Linked DNA regions of Homo sapiens: region 1 is linked to region 2. The links come from fine-mapping of genetic effects on gene expression. Tissue or cell type: lung. Region 2 holds a variant in brackets; the other region holds the start of a gene. All regions are shown on one strand. Distances are between the middles of the regions.

Region 1 (8,146 bases), 67 kb after region 2:
AGAAACATATTTACAGATGCAAAGAAAAATATTTTAATTATGCTGGAATAAAAAAAGGAGAAAAAAGCCTCCTCTGGGATTTTCAATTTATCCATAAAGCTCGTCATAGTTTTTAATATTTCTTTACTTATTTATAATTTAAAAAAAACAGAATTAAAGAACACCTCATTTCTCCCTTACAGGATACAAGCAGGAACAATGAAGATTATCAATAAAATAATAAGTTCAAGAAGAAAAATTAATGGCCGGGCGCGGTGGTTCACGCCTGTAATCCCAGCACTTTGGGAGGCCAAGGCAGGCGGATCACGAGGTCAGGAGTTTGAGACCAGACTGGCCAATATGGTGAAACCCCGTCTCTACTAAAAATACAAAAATTAGTCAGGCGTGGTGGCGCGCGCCTATAGTCCCAGCTACTCAGGAGGCTGAGGCAGAAGAATGGCTTAAACCCAGGAGGCGGAGGTTGCAGTGAGCCGAGACTGTGCCACTGCACTCCAGCCTGGGTGACAGAGCGATACTCCGTCTCAAAAAGAAAAAAAAAATTAATAACCAAGAGTTCATTATTGCATGTAGATGCATAGGAAATTTGATAGAGATCATGCATTTTAACAGAATTCTAAATTTTATTAAGTATATAATAATTCATATTTCCTATTAATACCAAATTAGGAACTAAGAGTAGTGACACACATAACAGAATTAGAATTTAATAAAAAAGTGTTATCATTTTTTTAAAAAGGCAAATTACTACTACTTCTGAATCTGCCCTGGCCTGTGTTTACCACATCCTCAATTCTACTCTGCCTATCACAACAGACATTTATTCTATGGTAAACAACTTCATTTTGAATGTGCTTAATTAAGTACACTGCTTGGAATATATCACGAAATTATATGAGACTTATTCATTAAGTCCACCCATCTAAAATTTCAGGATCAGCAAAACCGGGAAGTATAAAGCACAGCATTTCAGTTAATAAAATCTGAACACTTAGATTTCTGTACTGAAAACATCCTGTGGCTCAATATAGAAGATAGATGAAACAGAAAGTAAGAATAGTAGCAGAAGAGATGAGTTGCTAAACAAAAGCAGTGGTAATATCAGGGACAAAGGGAAGAGATAAAACAAGAGATTTAAAAGACTGAATTAGTAGAATTGGTGAGTACAAATGGGTGAGTAGAATTAACATCTGCTGAATAACTACATACTTAGCTTTTGAGATGAACACTTTCTATTTCCTTTGATCCCCAACATCTTTATGAGATAAATATTGCCCTTATTTTTACAAAAGGAGAGACTGAGGCACAAGTAAATGACTTGAATTTATGTAGCTACAACTTAGTTCTAACATACAAAGGCTTCTATAGCTCTAACATAGCAGAGCTCAGATCCAAATCCAGGTTTGTCAAAACCCAGTTAAACCTCTTTAACGCCCAGGTTCCTACTGGCATAAACTGAAGTTTGACAGTTAATTATTCATAGAGAGTGAAATTGGCTATTAATCTGTCCTTCATCTCGTCTATCCTTCATTAAACTTAAAAAAAAGATTCTATTATTGGCTGGGCGGGTGGCTCATGCCTGCAATCTCAGTACTTTGGAAGGCCAAGGCAGGCGGATCACCTGAGGTCAGGAGTTCGAGACCAGCCTGGCCAACATGGTGAAACCCCATCTCTACTAAAAATACAAAAAAAAATTAGCTGGGCTTGGTGGCGCATGCCTGTAATCCCAGCTACTCAGGAGGTTGAGGCAGGAGAATCACTTGAACCTGAGAGGCAGAGGTTGCAGTGAGCCGAAATCATGTCACTGCCCTCCAGCCTGGACAACAAGAGTGAACAGCTGTCTCAAAAAAAAAAAAAAAAAAAAAAAAGATTCTCTAATGTTACTATTAAAGTCAATCAAAACTTTGGGTGTGCTTTATAAAACTTCATTTTGTGTTTCATCTTCACACTTAATACTAAATGCCATTATAAGTTCATGGAACAGGTTTGGCAAGTAGGGAGAATGAAATTTATTTTATTTGAAAACACTGAGTTTGGGCTGGGCTCAGTAGCTCACGCCTTGTCATCCCAGCACTTTGGGAGGCCGAGATGGATGGATCACTTGAGGTAAGGCGCTCAAGACCAGCCAGCCCAACGTGGTGAAACCCCATCTCTACTAAAAATACAAAATTAGCCAAGTGTGGTGGTGCATGCCTGTAATCCCAGCTACTCCGGAGGCTGAGGCAGGAGAATCGCTTGAACCCGGGAGGCAGGATTGCACCACTGCACTCCAACCTCGGCGACAAGAGTAAAACTCTGTCTCAAACAAAAAAAAAAAAAAAAGAGGAAAAAAAAGAAAGAAAGAAAACACTGAGTTTCAAGTGCTCCTAAGGTATTTTGAGATAGAGGCCAGTCAGTAGTAAAGGATACTCTGCAATGGAGAAAGATTTGTGGGTGGAGCTAAGGAAGCTACTGGAAGTAGTTTGAATTTGGTGACCAAGAAAAGCATGCTCAGAGAGAAAAGATGTTAACTTGTTTAAATAGTGAATCAAAAATGCTAACATTAACCTAAGCAACTACGCTTGACCCTCAGTCAGCTGGACTTATCGTTGTGTATAAAGAACTATGGCATTTAATTGTGTCTTAAATATAATGCAAGCTATCACGGTAAAATTTTGAGTTACTTACTAATTCCTAAAAGTAAGCCAAGTACAGCTTTAATTATTTTTCCTAACTTTGGTCTAAAAATGACAGTCAAGATTTAGGTAGGTTTTACATAAAATTCTACAGATTCAGTAAAATACACTCAGTAAAATAAACCTTTGGGGAATAAAACTTGTTTTTCACTGTAATACCTTTAACATGACTTGTGTACTTTTTGCCAGGCTCAATACTAACTGGTTTATACGGATTGCAGACAGATGTCGATATATAACTACATAACTTTCTCTTCCTCTCTGTGTCCACATATTTAAGAATCCTGTCAGCTAGGTACAGTCAATCCCTAAGAATTGGTTCCAAAATGACAGCCCCTCTCTCTCACTCAGATACCAAAATCCACAGATGCTCAAGTCCCTTATATGAAATGGTGTCATATTTGCATATAACCTCCCCACATACTTAAAAGTTATCTCTAGATTACTTATATAACCTAACACAATGCAAATGCTATGTGAATAGTTGTTATACTGTACTGTTTAGGGAATAATGACAAGAACAAAAAAAAGTCTGTGCAACCATCCACTTTTTTTCCTCTGAAATATTTTCAGTCCCTTGATTGAGTCCACGGATACAGAGGATGCACTGATAACTGTATTATTTCTTCCAACTTGCATAAGAAGAACTGAAACTTAAAGAGGTGGTACCAACCTGCTCAGAGTCACACAATTCTGGCTTTTTGTGATATAAATACACGCTTTTAGGCAATATACTAGTGGCCTCCAAACGTTTTGTACTTGCACCCATTAAGCAAAAGAAATTTGAAATACATGTTCCAACATAAAATTAATACCCTATGTTTCACGTAGAAATCAAATGAAATAAATCTAAATAGAAGTTCTAATATGTTCCCTCTCTACCCACACACCCATGGAACAAACTGCATGCCACTGTATATACTATTGTACATGTTAAAAGATCACACTGCAACCATATAAAAGTCAGGAGATTTGGGTTTTTCTTTTTTCCTTTGAATATATATTACTGAGAAGTTTGCCTTTAAAACACTGGCTTTTAATCTACTACTCGTGACATATGCAGAGTAATAAGCGCTCACAAAACTTCTGTCTTGAGGGCTCAAACACCAAATGATTGCTCTAAGAATTTTCACAGTATTACCTCAAACCCTATTGGTTCTACAACCTTTCTCTACCCTAGAGTCCTGTTTTCCGCAATTCCCAATTGGGATTCTTCTCCGGTTCATTTCTGTAAGAAATGAGGGCAGAGAAATGCCATCAGTAAACCTTTGAACACATGTTAATTTTTCTAGGTAATACAATTTGCATTTTCGTAAAACTGGGCTTTAATGACAAATCCGATTTCAGTGATCTTTGCATACACCCTTTAAACACACCAGTTGCCGCCTGCGAGATATCATCAGACTCATGCTAAGAGCCACTCCCTACCCCAGCTTTCCCCAGACCTCTCCCCGCTTTACAGTTATTCGCCACAGCCCGGGAGAGTCTGGGGACGGCCGCCTGGGAGGGGACGGCCGCCTGGGAGGGGACGGCCCGGAGCAGACGCCAGGTTTCCCGCGGCTCAGGAGACCGGTGCCGCCTCGGAGAGCGCGCGAAGGTGCCGCCGGCCGCCCGACCCGCCCGAGGAACGGACATCTCCCGCCCGGGCCCGCAAGGACGACCATGAACACCGCCGCAGCTCAGCTGACCCTGCCTCTCCCGGGTGGCTGGGGGTCGCCAGCCAAGGGGGCAGCGGGCGGAGGATGAACCCCGGAGCAAGGGAAAGCGACAGCGCGCGCCTTCACCCTACCGCCAACAAGTCGAAGTCTCCCAAAGGAACCTGATCGGCGGGGCTGCCGTGGTACGACCGGCCGCTAAGGCCACCCTGCGGGCGTCTCGACCTCGGCTGACCGCCGCTGGCCCCCTGGGAACCGCGTGCCGGCCGCAGGAGAAGGTAGATTCCCGGGAGCCCCGGCGCCCACCGCGGTACTAACCGCGCCTGCGCCCCGCCCTCCCTCCCTTCGGGCTCCGCCCGCGCCTGCGCAGTTGCGGGGTTTCGCGCCGCCGGAGTCTGAGAGGCCGGAAGTGCCCCTTAGCGGGTGGGGGAAGCTGGTAGGCACGGGCGGCTCCGCAGTGACCGGACTCGGGGGAGGTGAGTGATTTGCCTAAGTAAAAGGGAAAGATAATTGAGCGCCCCCGGCAGCTGGTCTACGCATGCGTCCGCTAGGCCGGCTGGGAGCCGGCAAGGGAAAGCCGAGCGGGCCCCATTGGGGGAAAGGGGTCAGTCACTTCCCGGAAGAGGCGGGGCCGCGCGGGCCCGGCGCTGGATTCGAAACGCTTCCTGGTGCTCCTGGGCCTGGCGGTTGAGCCCGGGGAGCTAGTCTTTGCTTGGGTAAAGAAAGAGGACTTTCCTTTTTTTTTTTCCTTTTGAGAAAATTCAGAAATTTGGAGGCACAGTAGTTAGGATTCAGGCCAAACTGGTAAATGACGAAGGGGCTTCTTCCAGAGCCAAGGAGGAAGGGTTGTCCGGGTAAGTCCCGCGGGACGTGGAGAGACGGCGCCGCCCGGGTCCTCCCACTGATTCCTTTGACCATCTGGCTTACGGACGAGCTCTTTGTTCGCTGCTCCTCCGAAAACGCCTTCAATGACTCCCTTTGAATAAAGTAGGAAGTCCGAACCGAGCCGCCAGGCCGCGACTTGGCCCCTGTTTTCCACTCGCGAGGGCCCTGCGTCACCCCGCCTCGGGAAAGCTGCGCGTTCTCCGGCCGCTTGCGCTTGGCCGAAGCTGCTGGGTCCCGCTGTGCTTCCCCCGGGCATGCGATGGGGATAATTCCCACGCCTCGCTCAAAGCCATCCCGGGAGAGCCCTCCCTGGTCCCCATAGGCACAGTTGGGTGTTCCCTTTTCCGTGTTAACCTTGTATTTCGGATATAGTTCTGTTATAGTAATTACTTTAAGGTATTGTAGTTATTTACAATCAGTCTTTCCCCCACGGTAACCTAGAGTGTAAACCCCCTAAATAAACGTCAGAAGTAATGAAGTCTTAACTTCCTTGGCTTAGGTTTCAGCGCCCTTCTCAACCCCACACTCCCGCTTCAGTCTTTACACAACCCTTCCCATGAATATGCTGACCTAACAAGTAACCTACTTTTCATACTCCAAAATCTTCTCTTCTGTGTGGGGAAAATAATGCATTGACTGCCACCTCACTCCACCTCCAAATAAATTGATGTTGAAATTCTGGCCTCCGGTAATGGAATTCTTTACATCAAAGTCACTTTTTATTTCTAAAAGTAATCACATATATATTATATTCCTACTGTGGCCCTTGCCATGGATCAACGAAAAATATGACATAGTCAAAATAGACCAAAACATCTGGCCTTGTTGTAACCAATGGGAAACACGGTTGGGAGGTCCCTACTTACATGTCACTTGCTTCAGGAACCGTTCCTTGATTCCTAAGTGGGGGACCTTTTTTCCTAAATACAACTATAGCTTGCTTTCTTACCTCTTAAGCCCTTTTTATCTGCAGTCTCACTTACCCTACTAAGGTCTTTAAATGCAGGGCTTGATCTTCCATTATTGTATCTCCAGCACCTATAAAGCTTTCCTGTTAAATAGTAGACATTTAATAAGTATTTATTGATAAACGTGAAGTATGCCTCAACGTTTAGGCTAAATTCATATGAAAATAAAATTGAAAAAATAATTTTAAAGAACAGCATTAGTTACTGAGATTATGTGGTAAATCCCTTAAAATATAATCTTGCATTGAAATAGTTTTCACCATTTACCAGTCTTTATATGAATATATACTCATCTAAATGGAAATTGGGAAATTTAAGCATTTTCTGCTTTTCCGAAGTAAATTTTCTAATGTTTTTCTTAAAGCTGAACTAAATTGCAAAACTTGCTTTAATAAAGTGTGTATTTTTGCATCAGTTAAGCCCCTGACCTCTTTATGTTCTTTAAATTTGATTCATTAGTGAAATTAACAAGGTTCTGTGTTTTTCTCACCTCATTCAGTTTTATAATTAACCAATAAAAGCTTATTAGCTTTTAAGGAAGTTTTAGGAACTTAAATTGATTTATGGGCACCATATGGTTACATCAAAGGACTTGTTTTTGTTTTAACTGGAAGTGGATTCTTAAGTCCTTTAAGATGGAAATTTATGTTCTTTCTATTATACCAAGCAATACTTTCTGAAATAGAGTGATTTTTTTTTATTCCATGCTACCAGTTGGTCATGCAATTCAAATATTAAATACTAGATTACAGATATTAGAATCTTGTAATGCATCTGGTTTAATACCTGTCATTTTGTAGAACGGTTAAATGTCTTCCCAAGGTCATACACCTAATCAGTGGTATATTCAAAACCCAAATCCTAGGCTTCCTATCTGAAGTCCATTGCTTATGAAGTGGTTTGCTATGTGTTCTGACTTTGTTGATTCAAATAAGTAAGCTAAATCAATTTAAGCCATTAATAGGTTTATAAAGTTATTTGCTATGTGTTGTTCTTACATCATTGATTCATGTAAGTAGACTTGTGTGACAGCTAATTCTTAAAAAATTATGAAGATGTTAGACTTCTTTTGATATATATATGTTGATTGTATGAACAGATTGACATCAATATACTTATTCATTATAAAAGATTTGAGTGGGAACTCACCAAATCCCACACCAAAAAAATTTAAAATTTTACCATAGTAAAAAAAACTAAAAAGCAAGATGAAATTATACATAGTTCTTGGTGTAGTATTTTTAATTTTTATTATTTATTTTTATAGAAATGGGGTCTCACCATTTTGCCAGGCTGTTCTCAAACTCCTGGCCTCAGGTGATCCGCCTGCCTCGACCTCCCAAAGAGCCAGGATTATAGGCATGAGCTACCATGCCCGGCTAGTGTAGTATTTTTAAATTTTACTTAATGCTGAGCCATTTTCAAATAACCTCATCACATTGATTATGACCTCATGCAAGAACCATCTGTTCTATCTTTCAGTGTAGTTGTACTTTAATATCTTAGAAGCTATTGCATTCTGTCCTTTTTTGGAATGTTTTATGCTTTTACAGTCTTAACCATTGCTTCTTAATATCACTTCCGCGGAACAGCTGGTGCAAAGAACATGTGATAAGGAATGGAAAACAATTGATGATGGAAACAGAGATTTGGAGTTAATTGCGTTCTTAAAATATTATGATGTTCTTTCTAATAAAATGTACATTTCACATAATTTTCCTCTTTCAGAACTAACCATGGTTAATCATTCTTTAAACCAGGTTTGTTTCCGACAAAAGAAATGAAATAATAAAAACTAAATTCTAACTGTAGTAATCATGTGATATTAAAGATATTATTTATGGGGTTAAAAGCCCTCTTTATCTTGCTTAGGGGTTTCCAATAATCGAATCAGTGCTGGACTTTTTTTTTTTTTTTTTAGGCATGGCTGCCCCCTGTTAATAATATATTTAATTAACAGCTTTAC
Region 2 (8,000 bases):
AGAACTGCCTGCTAGTTCTAGGAAACAAATTGAACCCCACCAATGCCCCACACTGCTCTTCACCGACAGAGGACAAAGGAGTAGAAATCAAAGTGGAGCTGTTGCTCTTGTTTCAGGAGCTGGAGCTGGGAATCTGGGGAGGCAAAATAAACTCCAGAGGATCTATAAAGGGTTCTGCTCCAGTCTTGAGCTGAGTACTGGTCAGTGCATAGGTGTGAGGACACCATTTGAGGCTGGGAAAAGAAATATCCAAAGGAAATAGAAGTAATTCCGACAGCTCACACACGACCAGGAATAGTTCATGTTCTTATTGGCCAGAGTGAAAACCTTGTGATTTACAAGGTATCGGTAGAGTACTCAAAATAGCACTGCCTCAGAGGTAGGAAAAAATTAGCCCACAACCAACGGCTGCTCTAATCTCATCTAACAAGGCTAAAAGTAGCCTCAAAAGGGTAAAAATGGGTCCTATTTAATTCAAGCCCTACTAATATGCCTGTAAAACTGAAACAGGAATTTCAAAAACTAACCTGTAGTTTCACTAAGGAATATAAGAGCTAGGTACCTTTTTTTTTTTTAATTTGTACAAGCTTAAGATGGTAGAATTTTTGGTGTAAAGACAGTTTTAAAAAGTGTATTACTGAGGGAATTTGCCTGGAGAAAAACAGAGGCAAATGGAAGGACTAGGGCTGTCTCGGATTCATGTATATTAAAGGACCGTCCCTCCCTATCAATTATCCTCTGTTTATTTCTGTCACTTGTGATCAGTTGGAGTCAATCTATCTCTGTGAGTCTGTACATCTCTGGATATGTTAATATCCAGTTTCCCTAATTCTGTATTCATTTATCCAACCAATGTATATTGGTATGTATCAGGTATGATTATAGAAACTAGAGATACAGCAGTAAACAAAACAGAGTTTCTACATTCATGGAGCTACGTCATTCTAGTAGATTATGGTAAATCAACTGAGGTATTACCTTTATAGTTCCTACCAAATGCTTGTATCCATTAAAAACATGCAATAGTCAAGGGTAAAATAAGCTATTTTAGAACCAATGAGTTCCCTTTCAAAGGACCTATTTAAGCATAAAAGACCTATTAAGCATAAAGAATATCTAACAGAGTGGAAAAGTTGGATAAGCTCACCATAAAGAGCCCTTCAGATTCGGAATTGTCTGATTAAATTAGAGAATCCTAAGAACTGAATAACAAAGCAAGCATTAATAGTCTCTGCTATAACAGAATTATATAAATAATATGAAAACAGAGAAACACAAAAATGTATAATATATAGTAACATTTTTCAATGTACTTACCTTCTAAATTGTTGATATGTCTTGAATCTGTGCTCCATGATTTCTCCCAGTAATTTAATAAACTTTTTTAAAGTCCTCACTTTACTATCCAGATCAAGATAGGTCTCTCTTGCTTCTTGGTACTGCCTATTATATAAACAAAATATTACGTAAAAAATACACCACACGTAAAAAACATAACAGTAGAATCTCAAACAGATTTAACTGGGAAGAACAGGGAGGGGCAGAGAGTACTAAGGGGGCCTAGTAGCAGTCAATTTCATAAATTTCCAGGCAAATTACACTCCCAGAATGAAAGGGTGGTACGGAATAAGAAAGTGCTATCCTGACAGGGAAGGAACAAGGTCCAAGCCCTAGAGGAGGCAGAGACAGTGTGTGAACAAATGCCCTGGTACGGCCTAGAGGTGGCAGATCTTAGAGAATACTAGCAAATACACACCTTCAAAAAGGGAAGGGGTCACACTGGAAGAAAGGTTTCCTTCAGTGACAGATGCCAATAAAAGAAAAAAAGAACTCAAGCCAGCATTAGAATCCACCCTCCCCTGTCCTAAACAAGATAAGATCAAAGAGGCAGAGATGGCATGGCTACTCAGAGTGCTATTACAAAAGGCAACAGCCTATTACTGTGGCAAGCCTATAACTGAATTAGCATGAAAGGCAACCCTGGTCGAGGCTCCCACAGCTACCCTTCCCATTCTCCTTCAAATAACTGGCCCAGGAAAATTCAACTAATTAAAAAAATAAGTAACAAAAAACGCGCTGGCACAGCATCCAGATATTTATGGGGAAAATATGAAAAAGAACAGCAAAACTCTCCTACAGACAAAGAAAACTTATTAGAACAGTGTTGCCACAAAGCAGATGAAAATTATAATTGAACACCATAAATTAAAACAAAACAAGAGGCCAGTTGTATTGGCTCACACCTATAATCCCAGCACTTTGGGAGGCCAAGATGAGAGGATCGTTTGAGTCCAGGAATTAGAGACCAGCTTGGACAATATAGCAAGATTCTGTTTCTACAAATAATAAAATAAAAATTAGCCAGGTATGGTGGCATGTGCCTGTGGTCCCAGCTACTCAGGAGGGTGAGGCACAGGATCACTTGAACCCAGAAGTTCAAGGCTGCAGTGAGCCATGATTGTACCACTGCACTCCAGCCTGGGTGACAGAGCAAGAGCCTGTCTTAAAGAATAAAAACAAACAAACAAACAAACACGAACATTAGACAAGTGCTACCAGGAAGGAATACCTCAAAGCAGACATAAAAGAACTGAAAGAATAGATACACAAAAGAAGGTAATAATCAAACAAGAGGAGTAGGTAAAGCAAGAGAACCCACAGACGGGAAGGTAGGAGGGCTAGAACCTCCTCCTAAAAAGAACACACACAGATATGAAGACAAAATGAGAAGATGCATAGGAGAAAAGAGAAATGTGGAAAACACATAGATGGAAATAAAGAACATAAATGAGAAAATCAAGCAAAATGAAAAAAAAAGACAAAATGGTTAGACAAAATGATAACTAGAGAAGATATAGATATTCAACATAACTAAAGACCTCAAAAAAAAACCAAAACAATGAAACAAAATATTTTAAAGTAAAATTCAACAAATTTTTTAAGAACTAAAAGACTTAAATCTAAATATTGAAAAAGCAATGTTTAGCAATGAAAAAAATCACTGAATTCTAACATTCTGGATAAGTTACAGGACATAATAGACAAACACCAACATAAACAAGATGCTCATCAGGAGAAAAAGTATGAGCTAAGGATTTTATATTAGGTGAAACTATCCTTCAAACATAAAAGCTAAAGACAAATTCTTATCAACTTGTAAAACATAGAAAATATTCATACACACCATTCTCAAGCAAAAAAGAACAAACAACTTTTCAAATGGCTGCATAGTCATGTGGAAAAAGACAAAATCTATTCCTCACACCATACATAAAAATAAACTCCAAATAAATCACAGATATACAAAAATGGACATATAGAAGTACTAAAAAATCATAGGTAATTAGAACATGTGGAAAAAGGAATAAGAAAAAAAAATCATAGGTGAATACCTCCATAACCTAGATGTAGAGAAAAGCATTTTAACTATGACCCAAAATCCAGATGTAATCAAAGAATGACAAATTGAACTAAATAAAAATAATCTTTTCATGGCAAAAAATATAAATGCAAATTCAACAAAGAAATCAAGAGAAAAATCTGCAATATTTGGCTAATACTCCATATATATCTATATATATATATGTTAAAAACTTAAACTTTGAGGGGAAAAACACCATAGAAAAATAATTTTAAAAAAGAATAGATAATTCACAAGGTATAAAAATGATTCTTAAATATATGAAAAAATGTTGAGTTTTATTCATAATGATGGAATGTAATTAAAGTTACATTAATATACAATTTCTCAGCCATCAGACAG[G/A]CACAAATTACAAAGCGTAACTATACACTATACACTTTGTTGGCAAAGTTGGGGAAAAAGTATCCTTTCTCATACAGGTTGAGCATTCCTAATCCAAAAATTTGAAATTTGGCCAGGTACGGTATCTCACTTTGCTGCCTATAATCCCAGCACTTTGGGAGGCAAAGGCAGGAGGATCACTTGAGGTCAAGAGTTCGAGACCACCCTGGCCAACATGGTAAAACCCTGTCTCTACTAAAAATACAAAAATTAGCTGGGCATGGTGGCAGGTGCTGGTAATCCCAGCTTCTTGGGAGGGTGAGGCAGGAGAATTGCTTGAATCCAGGAGGCAGAGGTTGCAGTGAGCCAAGATTGTGCCGCAGCTCTCCAGCATGGGCAACAGAGTGAGACTCCGTCCCAAAAAGCAAGGCAAAAATCTGAAATTCAAAATACTTCAAAATCTGAAACATTTCGAGCATTGATATGATGCCAAAAGTGAAAAATTCCACACCTGACCTCATGGGACAGGTTGCAGTAAAAACGCAGGTACACAATGCAGTTTATTTATTCAGTGCCCCCAAGGGAAAAGAGACCTTCCTAGCCCCCTTCAGCTGTGATGTATCTTTTCTGTACATGTATGACATACATACATGGATATGTATGTTACATTTTTTACTAAGTACTTATGTGTGAATTAGTGTAAGAAAACGATTGCTTATATAAATTCAGAATCAGGAATGACAGTGATGTCAAACAACCACAGATTGTTTACATGGATGGCTAAGATAGTAACGTCTTCACTTTCTGATGATTCAATGTATACAAACTTTGTTCCGTGAACAAAATTATTTAAAAATTGCATAAAATTACCTTCAGGCTATGTGTATAAGGTGTATATAAAACATAAATGAATTTTTGTGTTTAGATTTGGGTCCTATCTCCAAGATATCTCATCTATATGCCAATATTCCAAAATCCAAAATACTTCTGGTTCTAGGCATTTTGGATAAGGAATACTCAACCTGTACAATGTTGGCGCAAATGCAAAAATGATACACACCCTATAGAGAAGGTTTGAAAATATCTAACAAAACCACTTACACATTTATGCTTCAAACTAGTAAAGTCACTTCTGGAAAATTACTATGAAGATACAGATTCGAGCACTTATATGATGCCACAAGTGTATCCAATAGCACACATATACATGTGTGCGTGCATGTGCAAGATAATTCACTGCAGCATTATCTGTAACTGCAAAATACTGGAAATAACCAAAATGCACACACACAGAATGACTGAATAAACTATGGTACAGATCAATGTGTGTGTGCAGACTCACAAAACAGAGTACAATGAAGCTGTAAAAAGAATGAGGAAGATCTCAATGAACTGATATGGAGTGATCTTCAGGTACATTGGTGAATGACAAAAGCAAGATGGTTGACTACCTTTTGTGAAAAAAAGTAGAGGAACCATGGAAAAAAGAAAACACATATGAACCTGCTTACTTTCACAAACAAATAAAAAACATGAAAGATAGAAAATAAAAAAGAACTGTTGCCTATAGGGAGTGGGCCAGGGGAAATGGTGTGGAAGGGATGAAAGAGGGAGAACATTTCCCTGAATATACTTTTGTTTATGGCTTTGACTTGTGAAACCATGTTAATTTCTACATATTCCCCTCAAAGAGAAATTAAATAAACAAGGATCAGAGAAAAATTGAATGTAAACAAAAACAAATAAAAGCATTTCTAAATCAAGTCAATTAATAACTACAACAATAAAGAAAAACCTAATCCAAATAACTTTAGAACAGAGTAAATTTACTAAATAGTAGAGAAAAAATAATTGCAAACACATCTTGAATGTTTTTCAATAATTTTCTTTCTGTAGATATATATTGTGGAACTGAGTAAATATTAACGTTGTTGAGAGCCAGAATTCCTCCTGTGGAGGAAAAAAAGACAGAAACAAGGAATAGGTTAAGGTTAAAAAGCCCTTTGTGGGACTGGACTGCCACTGGAGACACCAATACAAACTCACGTTTTTAATTCTGTTAACTGAAAGGTACTGGAAGAAATGCTACCCCAGCAACAATTAGCATCCCTAAAATCCAAATTTTGTTTTTAGGTATCATTCCTTAAAAAAAGGAACCAGGGCTCTTTGGAGAAGTTACTGACTCCAAGGCTGGGTCAGGTATAGAATGAGCTTGAAATATTTTGTTATGTCACAAAGTTTAAAAATGCTATTAAAAAAAAAAAAAAAACAAGAAGGAAAGCATGTTAAGAAAATGCAGGAACCAGCTTGAAGAGCCTCCATTTGACCAAAGATGGAACAATTTAAATCTTAAAATAGGCCATGCAGTGGCTCATGCCTGTAATCCCAGCACTTTGGGAGGCTGAGGTGGGAGGATCACTTGAGCCCGGGAGGGAGAGGTTGCAGTGAGCCGAGATCCTGCCACTGAACTCCAGCCTGGACAACAGAGCGAGACCCTGTCTCAGAAAAAGAAAATCTTAAGATAAACATGGACCGTAAATGACTATAGTCCATTGAGTAAAACAGAAATCTGTGGAAACTGAATGCAAATAGAAACATTTCCAAATCAAGTCAATTAATAACTGTAACAGTAGAGAGAAAAACCTAATCCAAGTAACTTTACAACACAGTAAATTTACTAAATACCAGAAAAAAAATAATTGTAAACATATCTTGCAGAGGGGATTTGGCAATAATTGCAAAGTCCATATTGCAAAGGCAAGTAAATAAATTAACAAATAGATAAATTGGAGATAACATAGGCTCTTCCTTACAAGTGACTGATAAATATGAAGGATGCAACAGAATTGAAAACTCCTCATTTTGCAAGCAGTATAGTAAAGATTCGTTCAGGTAAGAATCATTAGCAGAGGATAAATCTAGGGATGAAAATATGATGAAAAGCAGGATACTGGCAGGGTTGCAAAGTGTCTGTCTGCAGAATGTTTATTAGTTGCAAGGGAAAAAATAGTAAAGCATATAATGGAAAAACCAATTAACACCTTTACTGGGTGATCAAAATTAACATCATCAGTAAGAGAGAGAGAGAGAAATAGATAGACAGATTATGTGCCTCTGGATGTGATACCCAGAAAACGATACATCATCATTTCTGTAGCATCCTGGCCAAGAACACATATGAACCTAATTATAAGAAAAAATATCGTATAAAATCAAAACAAAGAGCATTCTGTAAAAGAGCATGACAAATGAAATACACGACCCTAGACTGCATCTGATATCGTAGGAAAGACGTGGAGAACCGTCAACATTGGAACTGGACTACAGGTATCAATGTTAAGTTTCCTGTACTTTATAACAGTATTGTGGTTATGTAAGATAATACTCTTATTCTTAGGGAATATATTGAAGTACTAAGAGGTAAAGGGTCATGATTTATGAAACCTACTTTTGAATGGTACAGAAAAAAAAGTAAAGTAATGTGAGTGTATGTATATGTGTGCATGTATACATGCTAAATATATATGGCCTTTCAATAATGTTTGAAGTTTTATGATTTTTGATAGAGCTGTCCCTCAGTATCTGCAAAGGAACTAGATCCAGGGCCCCCTGGGCAGATACCAAAATCCATGAATCCCTTTTATAAATGTCATAGTATTTGCATATAACCTATATACATCTTCCTGTATACTTTAAATCATCTCTAGAGATTACTTATAATACCTAAGACAATGTAAATGCTATGTAAATAGTTGTTACACTGTATTCTGTATTTTTTAAAAAATTTGTATTAGTTTTTACTATTGTGTTCTTTTTTTGTTGTTTTTGAGTTTTTTCCCCCAGTCTTTTCAATCTGTGGTTGGTTGAACCTGTGGATATGGAATCAGTGGATACAGAGAGCCAGCTGTATTTACAATAATGGATGCATGTCTATGGCAATTGGATCTAGGCAATTTCTCTATTCAATACATTATTAATTCCAAATGGGAAAATCCACTAGGATTAAAATTTCGTTTGAGCTCCAGTTGCTTCTTAAATCATTACTGCAATTATTTTACTTTATAACTAATAGAGAAATGTAATATGTGAGTGACTAGCAGACCATGGAATTAAAATTGATTTTGCACAGAAAAATAAATAGCTTTTGCTCAGGTTACTAAATTCACTGAATAAATTAACAATGAAAATCAGAAAGAACATCATAAAGCCACAATAACTAAAACAGTATGGTTTTTAAACAACTGCCTGTGGCCAGGTG

Evidence for each region. PIP is the estimated chance that this variant, and not a neighbour inherited with it, causes the effect.
Region 1: GEN1 starts here. The variant in region 2 is fine-mapped to the expression of GEN1 in lung (TOPMed, PIP above 0.99).

What each region holds. Positions count from the first base shown.
Region 1 is chr2:17,749,165-17,757,310 of GRCh38, forward strand. GEN1 (GEN1 Holliday junction 5' flap endonuclease) reads left to right here and starts at 4,974. Exons shown (of 14, transcript NM_001130009.3): 1 at 4,974-5,181. SMC6 (structural maintenance of chromosomes 6) reads right to left here and starts at 4,646. Exons shown (of 28, transcript NM_001142286.2): 1 at 4,462-4,646; 2 at 3,814-3,900. RefSeq lists silencers at 4,122-4,481, 4,622-4,761.
Region 2 is chr2:17,682,321-17,690,320 of GRCh38, forward strand. SMC6 (structural maintenance of chromosomes 6) reads right to left here. Exons shown (of 28, transcript NM_001142286.2): 24 at 1,318-1,443. Among named protein-coding and RNA genes, the nearest start is that of SMC6, 67 kb to the right of the region's middle. The variant G/A (reference allele first, on the strand shown) is at 3,764.